2 linked regions of the Homo sapiens genome follow. The protein of the gene in region 1 interacts with the protein of each later gene in a pairwise test. Each region holds a gene or a part of one and is shown on either strand. Other genes may lie near its edges.

What was found. Proteins that work in one complex are often made in the same cells at the same time.
Region 2: the proteins of CRABP1 (region 1) and TH interact in binary tests that used the Homo sapiens proteins (3 or more experiments, as listed by UniProt).

Annotation. Positions count from the first base shown.
Region 1 is NC_000015.10:78,335,295-78,344,333, reverse strand, and holds the start of CRABP1 (cellular retinoic acid-binding protein 1), read right to left. Parts: upstream 3,982-9,039; 5' UTR 3,906-3,981; coding exon 3,836-3,905; intron 3,292-3,835; coding exon 3,113-3,291; intron 836-3,112; coding exon 722-835; intron 1-721. UniProt on the Homo sapiens protein: Cytosolic CRABPs may regulate the access of retinoic acid to the nuclear retinoic acid receptors.
Region 2 is NC_000011.10:2,162,195-2,169,408, forward strand, and holds the end of TH (tyrosine 3-monooxygenase), read right to left. Parts: intron 6,472-7,214; coding exon 6,297-6,471; intron 5,986-6,296; coding exon 5,897-5,985; intron 5,740-5,896; coding exon 5,672-5,739; intron 5,292-5,671; coding exon 5,241-5,291; intron 4,839-5,240; coding exon 4,693-4,838; intron 4,575-4,692; coding exon 4,439-4,574; intron 4,356-4,438; coding exon 4,286-4,355; intron 3,865-4,285; coding exon 3,808-3,864; intron 3,570-3,807; coding exon 3,474-3,569; intron 3,172-3,473; coding exon 3,038-3,171; intron 2,199-3,037; coding exon 2,039-2,198; 3' UTR 1,735-2,038; downstream 1-1,734. UniProt on the Homo sapiens protein: Catalyzes the conversion of L-tyrosine to L-dihydroxyphenylalanine (L-Dopa), the rate-limiting step in the biosynthesis of catecholamines, dopamine, noradrenaline, and adrenaline. Uses tetrahydrobiopterin and molecular oxygen to convert tyrosine to L-Dopa.

The DNA of each region.
Region 1 (9,039 bases):
CATATGCCACCACGCCCGGCTAATTTTGTATTTTTAGTAGAGACGGGGTTTCTCCATATTGATCAGGCTGGTCTCAAACTTGCAACCTCAGGTGATCCACCCGCTTTGGCCCCCCAGAATGCTGGGATCTGAATACTTTTAAGGAAAAGCCTATCTTTTTTAGTTCTACAGGGGCTCATCTCTCCACACTGTGTTATACTCAGACACTTCCCAAATTAGCATTCATTGCCTGGCTCCCAAAGGCCATTGGAGTTTGCAAATCACAGCTAAAAATGTTCTCTAAGGTTCTGAGTGCTGATGTGATAAAAATTACTGAAACCTTTTCCAGCCAGCAAAAGGGGGAATGAGAATGAAAAAAAATCCCTTCTGCCATGTGAGCGTGGGGACCTCATAGAGCCTAAGCATTCCAAGCCTGATGAGAGGGGAGCTTGGCTTAAAGCATGTCACCGCCACTGGGATGTATTAGTGTGGATAGTGGCAGGCACTCCAGCCTGTCTCCAGCCCCTATTCCATCCTCTGAGCCACTCCTCTTTCCTGCCAACCATTTAACAATGATTTCCTCTGACCTGAACTGTCATCTCGGGTTTTCTGCTCTAATTTTAATCCAGGGCAAATGGTGTCTTTCTCTGAACGGCCGAGTGAGGAGGACATATTTGTGGGGCCCATCTGGGGCCCCCTCTGGGGGAACTTCAGGATTATTTCAGGGTCAAGGGTTCCCTACCAGGATAAGTTCATCGTTGGCCAGCTCACGGGTCCAGTAGGTTTTGGGGCCGTCCCCTTCAAGAAGAGTTTGCGTGCAGTGGATCTTGTTCTCATTCTCCCAAGTGGCTAAACTCTGCAGGCGGGAAAACCATTAGTGACATTAATTAGAGTCTCAGCAGCGGGAGCAGGGACAACAATGAGCATTGAAAAATAATTGCTCTGCAGAGAATCAACACATGGTCCCTGTCAGCAGGCCACAGATTCTTCTCCGCTGAGCCTTATAAAGTCCAAATTCAGAGTGCTGGTCACAGATTTTATGGGGTATAAATACACCTTGTATAACACACACACACACTCACAAGCACACACAAACAATCTCTTACTGAAGCAGCGAGGCCTTAGGCATGCTTTACATCTCTAGGAATAAAATTTAGAGCATGAAATGATTCATTTATATAAAAATTAGCTAACCCTTCAAACAATTTGGATTTTATTTATTTTTATTCATTTTTTTTTTGAGATGGAGTCTCGCTCTGTTGCCCAGGCTGGAGTGCAGTGGCACAATCTTGGCTCCTTACAACCTCCACCTCCCAGGTTCAAGCAATTCTCCTGTCTCAGCCTCCTGAGTAGCTGGGATGACAGGTGCCTGCCACCACGCCCAGCTAATTTTTTTGGTATATTTAGTACAGATGGGGTTTCACCAGGCTGGTCTCGAACTCCTGACCTCAGGTGAACATAATTTGGATTTTAAAAGCAAGAACCTTCACATCAGAACCACAAGATTTGACAACAGTTAAGACACCAAGTTTGTAACCACATCTGTCATCAGCCTATCAGGAGCACGATTCCCTGCATGGATTTTGGGATAGGAACGTCCTTTCTGTTCACTCCTCATCAGATTTAGTGCACCCCTGCACTGATAAACCTCGGTGTCTTTGGCTCTGAGGGTTAAAATGCTGCCACTTTCCCGGTTACATCCCTTTAGAAAAAATTTAAAAAGCAAATCAATCTGAAGGCTCTTCATGCTTTTGGAGGTGGGAGGCAAAAGGAGGGATTTCCTGAAGTTTTTCCCCAGTGTCTGCACAAAGCTAAGTGTGGTACAGCTGGGCTGGGGGGTGGGCCAGAGCTGAATGTGCACATAATCAGTTTTTAACTAACACATGGGACACATTCATTAGGCAAGGTGTGGGGGGATGGGGGGTGCATAAAGCCCCACTCTCCCGGCTGTTGTGTGAACCTTTAATTTTTTTTTTTTAAATCAGAATTACCCTTCCTGGCAGTAGCCAACATTGGATGTCCCCAGACTGAGCCCTGCCTATTGCCAAGCCTCCTCTCTTAGACTCCCAGCCCTTCACTCTATGCTGTCCTGCTCTTTGTTTCTGCAGTGCAGTTTAGGCTTCAGATCCCACCCCCTCCAAGCGTGGAGATCATTTCCAGGCTATGACAATTCTGGAGCCAAAGATTGCCTCCTAGATCAGCCTGCTTCTGGGGGGCTTTGTTTCTTTGTCCTTCCAAGCCCGGTGCTCAGAGAGTCCCATTCCGAGATCAGACCAGGCACTGCTCAGGAAAGGTGAAAGAAACAATTTCCCACTCTCTGGAATGTTACGACTTTTTTCTTTAAAAAAAAAAAATTGGAGAAGGGGAGGGAGACATTCTGTCACTTTTTAAATAAGTGGTAGCACCGGTGATTATTTTTCCATCTGGTTAACCAAATGCAATTTTTGCCCATGCAAAAAACGAATGTACAACCCCTTGCTTCAATCCACCGGTTCATCCCTGGGCCGATGCATGGAGAAATAAAAAAAAACTCTTGCCCTTGAGGACTAAGAGAGGGCAACTAGTCCATTTTCCCAGCCAGAACCTGCCTTGCTTTTGGAAAGACTCCGCCGTTCCTTTAAGGAACCAGGCCGAAGGCGGGAAGGGAGAGGTGACGGGGCCATCGGGACTGCTAAAACTGTATCCAGAGCGTACCCAGGCGGCCCAGGGACCCGGGCGGGCGCGGGGGATACGGCGGGAAAGGAATGCAAGAGCTGCGGCTTCACCTGCGACAGAGAACCTGGCGGCTCCTGCAACCTCCTCCTCCTCCTGCGCCGCCTGCGCTTGGCGCTGCAAACCGCTGCAAAAGCCACTGCTGGGAACGCGGCGCAACCCAGAGCCCGCTCTTTAAGCGCGGCTGTTAGCACCCCGGGAGGCAGCGTAGGGATGGGGTTGAGATGGAATGAAGGTAATACTTTGTCTTGAGCCAGGGGCAACTAGGATGCACAAACCCCCTCTGCAAACAGCCAGTGTACACACCCTGCAAGGAAGGCGCGCCACAGGCTGCAAAGGGAGACACAGGTTCCTCCAGCAGCAGTGGGCCATGGGCACCGAGCGGGGACACGGGGACGCTGTAGTGGCTCTGGGGCCTCACCCTGCACTTGCGTCCGTCCACGGTCTCCTCCTCAAAGCCTTCTCCGACCTTGAAGTTGATCTCAGTGGTGCGCACCGTGGTGGATGTCTTGATGTAGAACTGATCCCCGTCCTGGCGGATCTCCACGTGCGGCTTGGACGCAGCCGCTACGGCCACTTTCCTCAGCATGGCGTTCACACCTGCGCAGGGTGCACCACAGGCTTGGGTCACGGGGCCTCGCCGCCAGTCTCGGGACCGGTCGGGCACTGGTCATACCCTAACTTTAGAAAGGGGCCTTAAAATTGATCCACTCGTTTCCCTGCCCTCGCCCTTGTTTTCGAGATGAGAGACTGAGGCACAGAGAGGGTAAGTGACTTTCCTCGAGTTGCACAGTGAATTCGTGGCAGAGCCTGGTCCCAAATTTGAGTCTCCAAATTTAAGTCCCTGATCCTCCTTGCTCTCCAGTAATCTCTCCTCGCTATGATCTAGCACGAGATAAAGTCCGCACCATCGAGGAGGGCGCCAAACATTCAGCAAACGTTCGCTGAACGCGTGGGTTCCGGGATCTCTACCAGCTTCTCCGAGACCCGGTGCGCCTGGGAGACAAGGCGATCTATTGCCCCGGGGACTCCCTCCTGCCTGGGCTCCCCAACTTCCACCCCCTCCAGGACCGGGGCACTTCCGGGACCAGGGCACCTCCGGGCCGCATCTCCCCGTCGGGGCGCGCCCTCTGCACCAGCTTACCCAGTGCCTTGAGCAGCTCGTCGAAATTCTCGCTGCTGCGCATCTTCCAGGTGCCGGCGAAGTTGGGCATGGTGGCGGTGGCGGCGGCGGCAGGTACGGACAGCGGCGGCGCAGCGGGCACACTCTGAGCTCGCAAGGCGGAGACTGGCGCTTTGCGCCCAGCGCTGCGCGCCTTGAGTCACTAGGAGAGCGCCCCCAACCCCGCCGGGCTTCTGGCCCCGCCCCGCCGGCCCTGCCCCCGCTCCCCCGCAGCCCCTACTCGGTATGCGCTCAACTCCCAGCCCAGTTGTGCCTCAGCCTCCAGAGGTGCGGGCACCCGCTCTCCAACTGGGGAGCCTCCACCTCCCTCAGGACACCCACATCCCGCTTTAAAATGGGTGGTGGGAGAGGGTTAGCTGAAACAAGATGGGCTTGGAGGGGATAACTGTTGAAGCTGGGCGGTGTGGACTTGGGTTATGATTCTACTTTTCTCTCTACTTTTGAATATGTTTGAAAATATCCATAACATAAACTTAAAGTGGATAGCGAGCGGGGCCATCAGGGGATGGGACCCACTCTTTTTTCACCTCCGGTCGTACCTACTGGGTGTGCCCAGATGGTGTCCCTTCCCTCCCAGTCCGGGATCCTATTCTGAAACCCTCTCCCCGCATCCCCACGCCCCCCACAGGACCCATGGGGAGTGAGTGGCAGGAAACCGCAACCCCCATCAACACCAGCTTGGGCACTGAGGCGCGAATCCACGAGCTGCGGGTCCTCCGCGTTCCGAGTGCAGGAGGGGGCCAGACCTTTGTCAGGGCTCAGGACAAACTGTGGGTCGAGAGGCATGGACTGAATCAGCTCCAGAATCTGGGCTAGGTGCGGCCTGTTTTGCAAAAGCGTGAGGCTTTGCACTCTTCGGGCAGGCTGTGAGGGCCAAGGGGAGGAAGTCTTCTCCCTTTGCTCCCAAATAACCTAAACATCACGACCTAAAGTCCCCTCGGTGTTTCCACTAAGGGAGTACAAACACTTCACTATTACCCTTGTAGCTCTTCTCTGTACATTTTCCTTCCAGCTTTTTCCCACTATTTTACCATCTGCACACCTCAGCCAAACTGTACAATTCAGGATTCTAGAACGTGCCATGCATTTTATTATCTCTAAGTTTTTGCCCATGCCATGGCTTCTTCCTTGAATGCCCCTTTCCTCATCGGGTTAATCAAATCTTGCCCATTCACGAAAGCCCATCTTTATGCTCTCTCTTTTGTGAAATTCAGTTTCCTAATAAACTGTGATTATTTTTCTCTGAATTGACAGGATTCTTGTCCGGTCCTGCTCTTGTTCAAGTCTTCGCTCTGCTATAAACTGAACTCCTGGAGGGCAGTGATCGTTTATCCACTTGTCCTCCCTTCCTAAGGCTTAGCCAGGTGGGGCTCGATAACTGTGCATTGATTTGAGGAGGATGTGAGTGGTGGCCTGGGGTGAAGATTCCCCCAGGACCTTGGGGAATCTGTGCTGAGTGCCTACTGAACAGGGCCCTGGAAACTTCTGGAGGTGGCTGGGGCTGGGTTGCTGCCAGGAGGCTCCGAGGATCTGTCTAAGAAAGCAGCTGAGGACAGGAGAGGGGAGTGGGGCCATCACCAGCTGGAAAGGGGCATGGGCAGGGCCGGCATTCTGGACGTGCCGTCTGTGCAGTCACACAGGGCCATGCACTTAGAAGGGCCTGATAGTTAGATTGGAAAATGGAAAAGCAGGAATGCTCTGCTATTGCCAGCTTGAACGTCAGAATACTTTTTGTTTGTTTGTTTGTTTTGAGACAGAGTCTCGCTCTGTTGCCCGAGCTGGAGTGCAGTGGCGCAATCTTGGCTCACTGCAACCTCTGCCTCCTGGGTTTAAATGATTCTCCTGGCTCAGCCTCCCAAGTAGCTGGGACTACAGGTGTGTGCTACTATGCCCAGCTAATTTTTTGTATTTTTAGTAGAGACAGGGTTTCACTGTGTTAGCCAGGATAGTCTCGATCTCCTGACCTCGTGATCCGCCCTCCTCGGCCTCCCAAAGTGCTGGGATTACAGGCATGAGCCACCGTGCCTGGCCCCATAATACTTTTTGAACAAGGAGTCCTGAATTTTTATTTTGCACTGGGATCTGCAAATTAAGTAGCAGGTCCTGGATGTGGGAGGCAAGGGATGGAGCTGCCATAGAATCAAACCCACTTCACAGAGGGTTGAGTGCCTCTCCAGTGAAGGGGCAAAACAGGAGTGCCATCCAGCTAATGCAGGCCTCTGCCCCCATCCAACACTCTTCCCTAAGAAGGCTTCAGCCATCTAAAGGGCAGGGCTGGGGAGGGACTGGGGCAGGAGGCTGGAGGAGGGCAGCAATGTTGGAGCAGCATCCTAGTTTACAGCCCAGAGAGACCTTGTGAGGATAGTCAGAGGGCCGTGGATGAGGCACAAAGGTGACAGAGAGCTCTTGCAGCAAAGGCATTGGATGGACAAAGAGGGAAGAGGGAAAGAAGAAGGTGAGGGAGGGAGTCAGAGAGAGAATGGGGCAAGAGGGGCCAGATGAAGGTGTCCACTCCAAAAGTTGGCCATACTGGGACAGGACAGTGGTGTCGTTCTGCAGGCACAAAACAAGGGCGGGAGCAGGGTCCAGGAGTGAGGAGGGCACAGCCAGTTCAGCCATAGAGTGGAAGATGATCCCAGAGTCCTTGTGAGCCCACTCTCCTTGTTTTTAAGACAGGGTCTGGCTCTGTCGCCAGTGCTGGAGTGCCCTGGTGCCATCTTGGGTCACTGTAACCTTGCCTCCCGGGCTCAAGCAATCCTCCTGCCTCAGCCTCCCAAGTAGCTGGGATTACAGGCATGCACCACCGTGCCTGGCTAATTTTTGTATTTTTAGTAGAGACAGGGGTTTGCCATGTTGCCCAGGATGGTCTCGAACTCCTGAGCTCAACCAGTTTGTCCACCTCAGCCTCCCAAAGTGCTAGGATTACAGGCATGAGCACCCAGCCTGCTGTCCTTGTTAATGGAAGTTTAGAGGTGACCAGAGCAGACAGGAGGGGCCAGGACTTCTCAGAAGACCCAAATCTCATCAGGTGGCACATGGAAATGGGAGGGCAGGCTGCTATCACCTTCCTGGCTACTGGGGAAACCCCAGAGTCAAGAGGGCCACAAAAACACCACCACCATGGCTGGGCACGGTGGCTCACACCTGTAATCCCAGCACTTAGGGAGGCTGAGGCAGGCGAATCACCTGAGGTCAGGAGTTCGAGATCAGCCTGGCCAACATGGTGAAAACCCATCTCTACTAAAAATACAAAATTAGTCGAACATGGTGGTGCGCCCCTGTAGTCCCAGCTACTCAGGAAGCTGAGTGAGGAGGATCACTTGAACCCAGGAGTCCCAGGTTGTAGTGAGCAGAGATCGCACCACTGCACTCCAGCCTGGGCAACAGAGTGAGATTCCGTCTCAAAAAGAAACAAACAAACCAACAAATAAACAAACAAAGAAAGCCACCACCATCGTGGTGTTTCTGTGGATCCAGAGCAGGCCCCCTGCTGGGCAGAGACCCGGCTCTTGGCCCGGGTCTTCAAACAGATGGGCAGAACCACCTGAAATGCTCTGACCTCCCTGTCTTCTCTCCTTCTCTTCTTTTACCCTTCCATTCGCTAACCTTTGCTGACCATCTCTGTGAGCCAGGAACTGGGTGCACCTCTGAGGATAGTGACCACTCAAGATCCAGGTCCTGTCTTGAAGGTTCACTGTTTACACAGGAGGAAATAACCTAGAAACTCTGTGATCACCACACGGGCTAATAGTGCCTGAGGGGCAGGTACTGAGCCCAGCCTGGGTTGAACCTTAGGAGTGGATCCAGAGGGGCTGTGAGAGTGAGGGAGTACAGTCAGAAGAACAACACGTGCAGGGACAGGGTTATGTGTTTGGGAACCACATATCTTTTGGCCTGGCTGGAGTGCATACCTTGAAGGGAGCAAGGTAGGAGGTAAGACAAGAGATGAGCTGAAGGCACTCTCCTAAGGACAAAGGGTCATGAATGCAGCGTTCCCAGGTGGCCACATAGAAGGATTTAAGCAGAGATGAGCCATGGTCCTACTGCATATTTGGAAAGTTGCCACCACCACAGCGTGGAGAATGAATGAGAGGAGACAAGTATATTACCAGGGATGCAGGGAGGAGGATTTTGCCCTGAACTAGGCAACCAGCGGTGATGTCGGCAGTGGGTTAGACCACAGTGGTTCCCTAAGGCTAGTCTGTGATTTGAGTCAGGCATTACAGCAGCCTGGGGAGCTTTCTAGAAATTCAGATTCCTTGGCCCCAGCCCAGGAGATTTGGATCCTGTAAGTCGTGGATAGGGCCCAGGAAACTGTGTTCGGCAAGTTTTCCAAGTGATTCTCCTTGCACAGCCAGATTGACTTTACAATATGTCATGACTGGTAGGGGTGAGGGAAGTGGGAGCAAGAGGCCAGAATGACTCCTAGATTCCTGGGTGGTGTGCTTGGTGGTCTCATTTGCTGCTATAGGTAAGACATGGATGGCAGATGAGTTTTATCTGGGAAGCGCTGGGTTTGAGTTGTCTGAGTATCCAGGATCCAGTGGGAAGTGTGGTTTTGGAGTTCGAGAGAGAGGTCTTAGCTGAAGACAGGGATGGGGGTCACCTGTTTCCAGCAAGCAGTTGAAGACATGAGTGTGGATGAGATGCGCAGAGACAGGACACAGAAAGAGAAGAGCAAAAGGCAAAGGGTAGAGCTTGGAGAATCTCAGCGTTTAGGGGTCAGATGGAGCAGGTGAGTGCTGAAGGAAGCAGGAGGGGAGAAGGAAGAAAACCAGAGGGTGATGTCCTCCCAGTCAAGGAGCCCAGCATTTTTTAAAAGGAGGGATTGGCTGGGTGCAGTGGCTCATGCATGTAATCCCAGCAGTTTGGAAGGCCGAGGTGGGTCGATCACCTGAGTTCAGGAGTTCAAGACCAGCCTGGCCAACATGGTGCAACCCCATCTCTACTAAAAATACAAAAATAGCCAGGTGTGGTGGCAGGCACCTGTAATCCCAGCTACTTGGGAGGCTGAGGGAGGAGAATCACTTAAGCCTAGTGGGTGGAGGTTGCAGTGAGCCAAGATTGCACAACTGCACTCCAGCCTGGATGACAGAATGAGACTCCATCTAAAAAAAAAAAAAGGAGGGATGGACCAACAGTAACAACTGCTCCAAAGAGGTTCA
Region 2 (7,214 bases), on another chromosome or scaffold:
CTCATCTTCCGTGTGATCTGGGGGTGGCGGCAGGACTCTGGGGGTGGGCAGGTGTGGGAAGCTGTGCACTGGCCCAGCTCCGTCCTGGCCCCCCAGGCACCCTCTCAGCCCCCACTCCTCTTCTGGGAGCCCATCTCCCCTCTCCTGGCCAGGTCCCATGACACCATCACCCCCATAGTGTCATCTGGGCTGAGCCCCTGGGGTACACCCCTCCGGCCCTCCCAGCTCCCCAGAACAGGCACCTGGAGGTCCAGCCTGACCCATGGTGAGGGGGCATGGGCTCCGAGCCCTGCTGCCTGCAGCCCCTACCTGCCTCTTAGCACCAGGGGCAGGATCAGGAGGTCCCAGAAGCAGGAGGATGAGACCATGGGGGCAGGCAGGTTGGAGTATCCTGTGCCCCGGCCCCTCGCATCCCTATGTCCCACCCTGGCCTCAGCCTCGGAACCTCTCGGGGCCGCTCTGCACACACCCAGCCTTTGGCTCTCCTGCCCCGAGCGGGTTTGGTAGTGGGCACCAGCTATCTGCAGGACCCCTCCCTTCCGCCCTTTCCACCCTGAGCCATGCCACAGCAGGACATGCGGTGGCTGCCCCAGGACGCCACAGTGCTCTGAGGCCCGGCAGCTGGAGAGGACATGGGTGCCTCCTTGAGAGGAGTGTGTAGGGAGGGAGGCTGGATGGGGGGAGCCCAGGTAGGAGGGCAGAGCCAGGCGCTGGCAGGGCCGGGGGGAGGCAAGGCAGGCACTTCCCCAGGGCTTCCTGGGGGCTCACAGCCCTTCAGAGACACCCCCAGCTGCAACCTCAGGGGCTGGGCACTAACAAGGTGTGTGAGGAACAGACTGCCAGGCTGGGAAGGACCACCATGCCCAGGAGGGCCTTCGTGGATGAGTAGGAGTTTGCCAGTGTTGTCGGCCGGGGAGCTGAGATCCAGGATCCCAGCAGCGTGTAGTGGGGTGGCTGGAGGGAGGCAGAGACCTTGAAGGCCAGCTGGTGTCCCAGCACCCCCTGCAGGATGCCCTGGGGCTGCTCTCTCCAAGGTAGGAAGGGGACACCCTGGCCGGTCAAGCCTGGAGGGTGTTGGGTGCTCTCTCTGGAGGGCAATGTCCAGGCCCCTCGAGTAAGCCAGGGGCATCTTACAGAGTCTGAAATCCAGCCCCCATCCTGCCTCGCTGGGGAGACAGGCCCAGACCATCTGCCTGGGCACCAGCTCAGCCAGACCCTCCCCATCAGCACACATGCTGGGGGCCACACTGAGGTTCCCCTTGGTTCGCAGGGCCTGCTCCGGGTGGGTGAGGGCATCAGGGCAGCTGTTCCTCCATCCCTGTTTCTCTCAAGGGCTGGGAGCCCTGTCAGCAGGGAGGGTTAGGCCTGCAGGCCCACCTCTGAGACCACCCCCAGCCAGCACAGTTTGTGACCCCTGCTCCCTGCCAGGCCTGAGAGAGGCCCTCCCACTGTCACGTGGCTCCCCACCTTGGGAGGGCACCCCACGGAGATGGGGCAGCTCGGCCAGGGTGCCCGAGCCTCTGGAGCTGCTTGGGGCTCAGAGCTGGGCGGGGCCTCAGGGTGAGCGGGGAAACCAGGCCCGGAGGGGCCAGCTGCCTGGCCAGGGCGGCCAGCCATCTCCCAGAGGAGGAAGGAGGCCAGGGCGAAACCTCTGAGTGAGGCTGGGGTGGGGGTGTGGGAGTCTGAGGATCCCAGGGTCTGTCTCTGTGGCACAGATGTGGGGCCAGGCAGGTGTAGAGACCACAGTTTCTTTTATTGTGACGGTGATTGGGGCAGCAGACAGTGTCAGGGAAGGGCGGAGGGCAGTGCAGCAGCCCCCAGGACCCTGGGAGCCAGGACAGGACCTCACCACAGGCAGCACAACCTCACCACGGGCACACACAGCTGTTGCGCTGAGAAGCAGGTGCAGGGGCAGTGGGAGCCTGGCAGCAGGGAGGGCATGGGGGGCACCCGGGACCCAGCCCCTCACCAGGGCCTGAGCTCCGGGACAGTGCAGGACCAGGGGAGGTTGGGAAGGGCCCTCAGGGACGCCGTGCACCTAGCCAATGGCACTCAGCGCATGGGCAAGGGTGTCCAGCTCATCCTGGACACCCTCCAGGGAGCGCCGCACGGCCTGGGGGCTGTCCAGCACGTCGATGGCCAGCGTGTACGGGTCGAACTTCACGGAGAAGGGGCGCTGGATGCGTGAGGCATAGCTCCTGGGGAGGAGAGCGGCAGAGCCCTCGTCAACTGGCGGGCAGAGTCTGCAGCCTCCAGGAGAGGGGAGGCCAGGGGCCGCGTTTCCACCTTCACAGTGGCTCAGAGCTCCCAGGGCTTTTCTGAGCCAACTGGTCACAGGCGGGACACTGAGGCCTCTTCCAGGGCTGGGTGAGGGGGTTCATGGGGGAGATAGGCTAGGCGCCTTTTCCACTAGAGACTGCCGGGCACCCCATCCCTCCCTGAACCTCCACTGGGCCTCCTCCAGGAAGCTTTCCTTGACCATATCCCTAAGCCTGTGGGTGGAATTCAGCACCCCTGTCCGCTGGACACATAGCCCCTGGCCTCAGTTTCCCCAGTGCATAAGAGGCTGGAGGGAAAATGATGAGACCTTTTATGAGGATGAGGCTAGAGGGCTTTGCTCCCCTCTCCTGACACTCTGGTCACTGCACCAAAGGCCCCCAGCCCTGGGGACCCCACTCCCGCCCTGTCCCCCACCTTGACTCTGTCTATCCCCCTGACTTCTCCCCATCCCAGGGCAGGGGGCCGGGACAGGTTCCACAGGACGTCCTCACAAAGCTCAGGCTCTGTCAGCACCTCCAAGACTGGCCTTGACCCGGCCACCCAGCAGCCCCCAGTCCTGTAGGTCTGCCCCTCCCCAGACGCTGGGGTCCTTCTCACGGATGGTGTCCCTGCTGTGTGGGGGCTGCTGCAACCAGGGGTCGGTTTTCTCATCTGTGACCTGGGCTCACAGGTCCAGCCCTGCTCAAGGCCAGAAGGAAGGCCTGGCTGGCCCAGTTTGGGGGCACCATGGGGGGCTTGCCCTAGCAGCCTAGCCCACCTGAGCTTGTCCTTGGCGTCACTGAAGCTCTCAGACACGAAGTAGACTGACTGGTACGTCTGGTCTTGGTAGGGCTGCACGGCCGCAGCCTCAGGGTCGAAGGCCCGAATCTCAGGCTCCTCAGACAGGCAGTGCTGGCAGGAGGCCAATGGCATCACTGACTCCACTGCACCCAGGTCCCCGAGGGAACTGGGGCACCGTGGCCTGACGCTGGGTGGGTTCCTTGGGTAGAGTCACCCCCATCTCCCCCGCCGGGCCTTCGGAGGCCTGGGATAATGTGGGGTGAGGACTGGGCAGAGACAAGCCTTCTCCCAAACAGAGCCTGAGTCCTGGAGGTCCAGGCCTCAGTTTCCTCCCACTGGGAGCCTGTCCCCTCCCTGCACCGTCCCCCAGCCCTGCCCCTCTGCTGGGGGCTGCAGCAAGGAGAGACTCTCACCAGGAGCTCCCCGTAGGAGGACAGCAGCCCGGCACCATAGGCCTTCACCTCCCCGTTCTGCTTACACAGCCCGAACTCCACCGTGAACCAGTACAGCTGCGGGGAAGCCGGGCAGCATCAGCCCAGAGACAGCTGCCGCCCACCGGGCAGCCCCTGGTCACCCGTGACCAGGATACCACCCCCAGGGAGGCCAGGCCAGGATGCAGGCAGGCCAGGGTGAGGGTCACAATTCGTGGGTGGAAGGAGAGGCCTCAGCCTGGACGGCAAGAGGGTGAGGCCTGGATTCAGACCCCCAAACCCACACCCCAGGCCCTGCAGGGAGGGGTCAACCCACCGTGGACAGCTTCTCAATTTCCTCATCCGAGGCCCCCAGGGACGCCAGGCCAATGTCCTGTGGAGCAGGGAGGATGAAGGATGGGGAGAGGCAGCCCTGGGTCATGCTCGAGGTGGGGGCACCGGGGGTGTCAGCAGCCCCTCCAGGGGTCTCTGGGACACTTCCCTGGCGGCAGAGACCTTCCCTGGCCGCCCAGGATCCGCACCTCCACCGGGCCTCCTCCTCCAGGCAGCCCTCCTTGACCACATTCCTAAGCCCGTGGGCGCCGTTCCCAGGTAGCCGGCAGGTGGCAGCACAGGCCGTGGGAGGCTCCGCTCCAGCCCCGCCCTATGCCGCGCGACCCTCGGGGCGCCGAGCCTCCTTGGCGGGGCCCGGGAGCAGGCAGCACACTTCACCCACCCGCACATCGATCCCCGCCCGCCCCCGGCGCCAAGCCAGCCCCTGGGTGACCCCGGCTCCCTCCGAGGCCGCGGCGTACCTGCGAGAACTGCGCGAAGGTGCGGTCGGCCAGCATGGGCACGTGCCCCAGCAGCTCGTGGCAGCAGTCCCTGCGCGTAGGAGGGAGAAGGGGGCTGAGGGGCCGCCCGTCGCACCCCCCACCCTCGGGCTGGCGGCCAGGGCGCGCACTCACGGCTCAGGGGAGTGCATGGGCGAGGACGCGTGGCGGATATACTGGGTGCACTGGAACACGCGGAAGGCCAGGCTGGCCAGGAAGTCCCGGGCGGACAGCAGGCCGGCCACAGGCCGCAGCTGGAAGCCCGTGCGCTCTGCAAGGGGCCACGCGGGTCACTGCCGAGCCGGGACGGGCTGGAGCCGCGCTGGGGTGGGGCGCTTGGCTGACCATCCCCGGCCCCCCGGCTCTGCGCCCCTCCCGTCTGGGCACACCCTTCAGGAAGCGGGAGACGTCCTCCAGCTGGGGGATATTGTCTTCCCGGTAGCCGCTGAAGCGCTCCAGCAAAGCAAAGGCCTCCAGGTGCTCCCCGCAGGCGTGCGTGGCGTAGAGGCCCTTCAGCGTGGTGTAGACCTCCTTCCTGCGGGCAGCCAGGCTCAGGGCCCTCTAATGCCCCACCCCAGTGCCCGAAACCCCCCTCCTGAACTGTGGGTGCCTCTGCCTGCCTGAGCCCCTACCAACGCAGGCCTCTTGGGGACCCCTGAAGACCCAGGCCCCCGGGAGGGGCTTTTGCTGGTGGCTTTAGGGAATCCCAGGGGATAGGGGGCCATGAGGGGCGGTCCCTCAGCACACTGGGGATGGCCCGACAGGATGGGTAGCCTCTTCCTCCCAACCCAACATTCTGAGCCCTGCAAGTCCCTCTTCTTCCCGGCCTTAGTCTCTCCTGTTGTGCCAAGGTCCCTGGAGGCGGCCCTCACACGCCAGGATTCCAGGAGGCATCCCCCGGGCTCCTCCCCAGCCCCTAGCTGCACGGAGGTCTCACCAGGTGGCAATCTCCTCGGCGGTGTACTCCACACGGGGAATCGGGTCGCCGCTGGGGAGGGGGCCAGTGGTCAGCAGGTCCCCTCGGGGAGTGAGAAGGGCAGGAGGGAGGGAGGGAGCTTCACTGGGCACAGGTCCACACCCGCCTAGTGCAGCGAGGCCTTTGGGTTGGAGGATGGACAGGAGGGTGCACCCCAGCTGACTGTGCCGTGAGCCGGCTATGTGGCCTCGGCAGGTTGCTCTAGCCCCCCTGGGCCTCAGTTTCCCCACTGGGATTTGGGGACATGGAAAGCCCTGGAGCAGAGCTGCCTGGCAGGAGGCACTGATGCTGGTGACAAGATGGGTCCTCCCCTTTGTCCTTCCCTCCCACCCCCCAGGTCCAGCGTCAGCCTGCAGGACGGAGTCTGGGTCCCGAGCGCAGGGGCCCCTCACTGCCTGTACTGGAAGGCGATCTCAGCAATCAGCTTCCTGCGCTGGCGGTACACCTGGTCCGAGAAGCCCTGAGGGCAGAGGGGATGCACGGGTCAGGAGGCTGTGCTGGGGTGGGGGCACAGGCCACGGAGGCTCCTGGAGCCGACAGACTCCTGTCCAGGGTTGGGCTAAGGGTAGGGGATGTGATCAGGGGCAGGAGGCCTGAGTGAGGGGCGCACCACTCACCGGGTGGTCCAAGTCCAGGTCAGGGTCGAACTTGGTGACCAGGTGATGACACTTGTCCAGCTCTGACACTTTTCTTGGGAACCAGGGGACTTTATGGGTGATGGAGGAAGAGATCTTGGTGAGCTCGGAGCCGTGGGGCTGTGTCACCCACCTTGAAGCAGCCTCCCCTACAAGACTTCCGGGGGGCAGAGGCAGCCGGGGCTGTGAGAGCTGCGGGGGGATCCTGGAGTGGCCCCAGGCCCGGACACGGATGTGTAGCAAAACGGGGTGCGGAGTGGAGCCCGCAGAGAGGGAACCAGGCCACCACCACGTGGTCACTGTAGGGTCCCCCTGCAGGAGCCCCTGCACCCCAGCCTCTCAAGGTCATTTGGTGGCCCTCAAGGACAGAAAACCGCCTCACCCTTGGGCCCCGCGGGGCTGCGCACGTCCTCTGACACCTGGCGCACACCACTGAGCAGGGCGGCCAGGTCCCCTCGGCGCACCTCGAGGCGCACGAAGTACTCCAGGTGGGGGCCCCCAGCTCGCGGCCTCTGGGCGGGCCGGGTCTCTAGATGGTGGATTTTGGCTTCAAACGTCTTAGGGAGCAAAAGCAGGAAGAGAGAGAGAAGGAGAAAGAGACAGAGATGGAGAGAGAGGGTGGGGTGGGCGGGGAGGAGGCACATCTGGCTGGCTGGCCAGGCCCTGCCCTTGACTTTTGTGCTAGCAGCACACAGATCCCGTTCTTCCAGGCTCAGGTCAGCTGTCGGCCACCAGGCCAGGGTTTGCCACTGGCAAGTTGGATTTTGTGTTACGTGCCTAACCAGGAGTTGTCACCGCTTGAGGCTTAACCTGGTTCTGGGCGGCTCGGTGTGTGTGTCCCAAGGCCATGCCACACAGTCCGGCTCCTCAGCCACTGGTCAGAAGGTGCCCCCAACCCTGGTGGCCTCATCCAGGTTTGTAGGATGGGCCCTGAGTCTCACTGGCCCCTGAGCGTCCAGGACACTGGCCAGAAGGGTCCGCTCCACCCCCACCTCCTGTTGCCTAGCAACAAGGGCGGTGGGTCGCAGTGGCCCTCGGGCCACAAAACTGGCTCTGGGAGCTGGGGGGCGGGGAGTCTGGCTTTAATGTCATTTGGGAGCTTCTTCCGGGAGCTGGGTCACCTGCCTCCCGGGGCACAGTGGGGCCGGAGTGACTAATGCAATCAGTGGTCACCTGAGCCACTGTGCTGGGTGGGTGGGAGAGGGCACACTGCCCTGCCCCTGCCTCTTGTGCTGCCCTGCTGGGAGCCCCCCACGTGGGAAATGGTGGGTGAGGGGGATCCAGGGGATGGGCAAGGCAA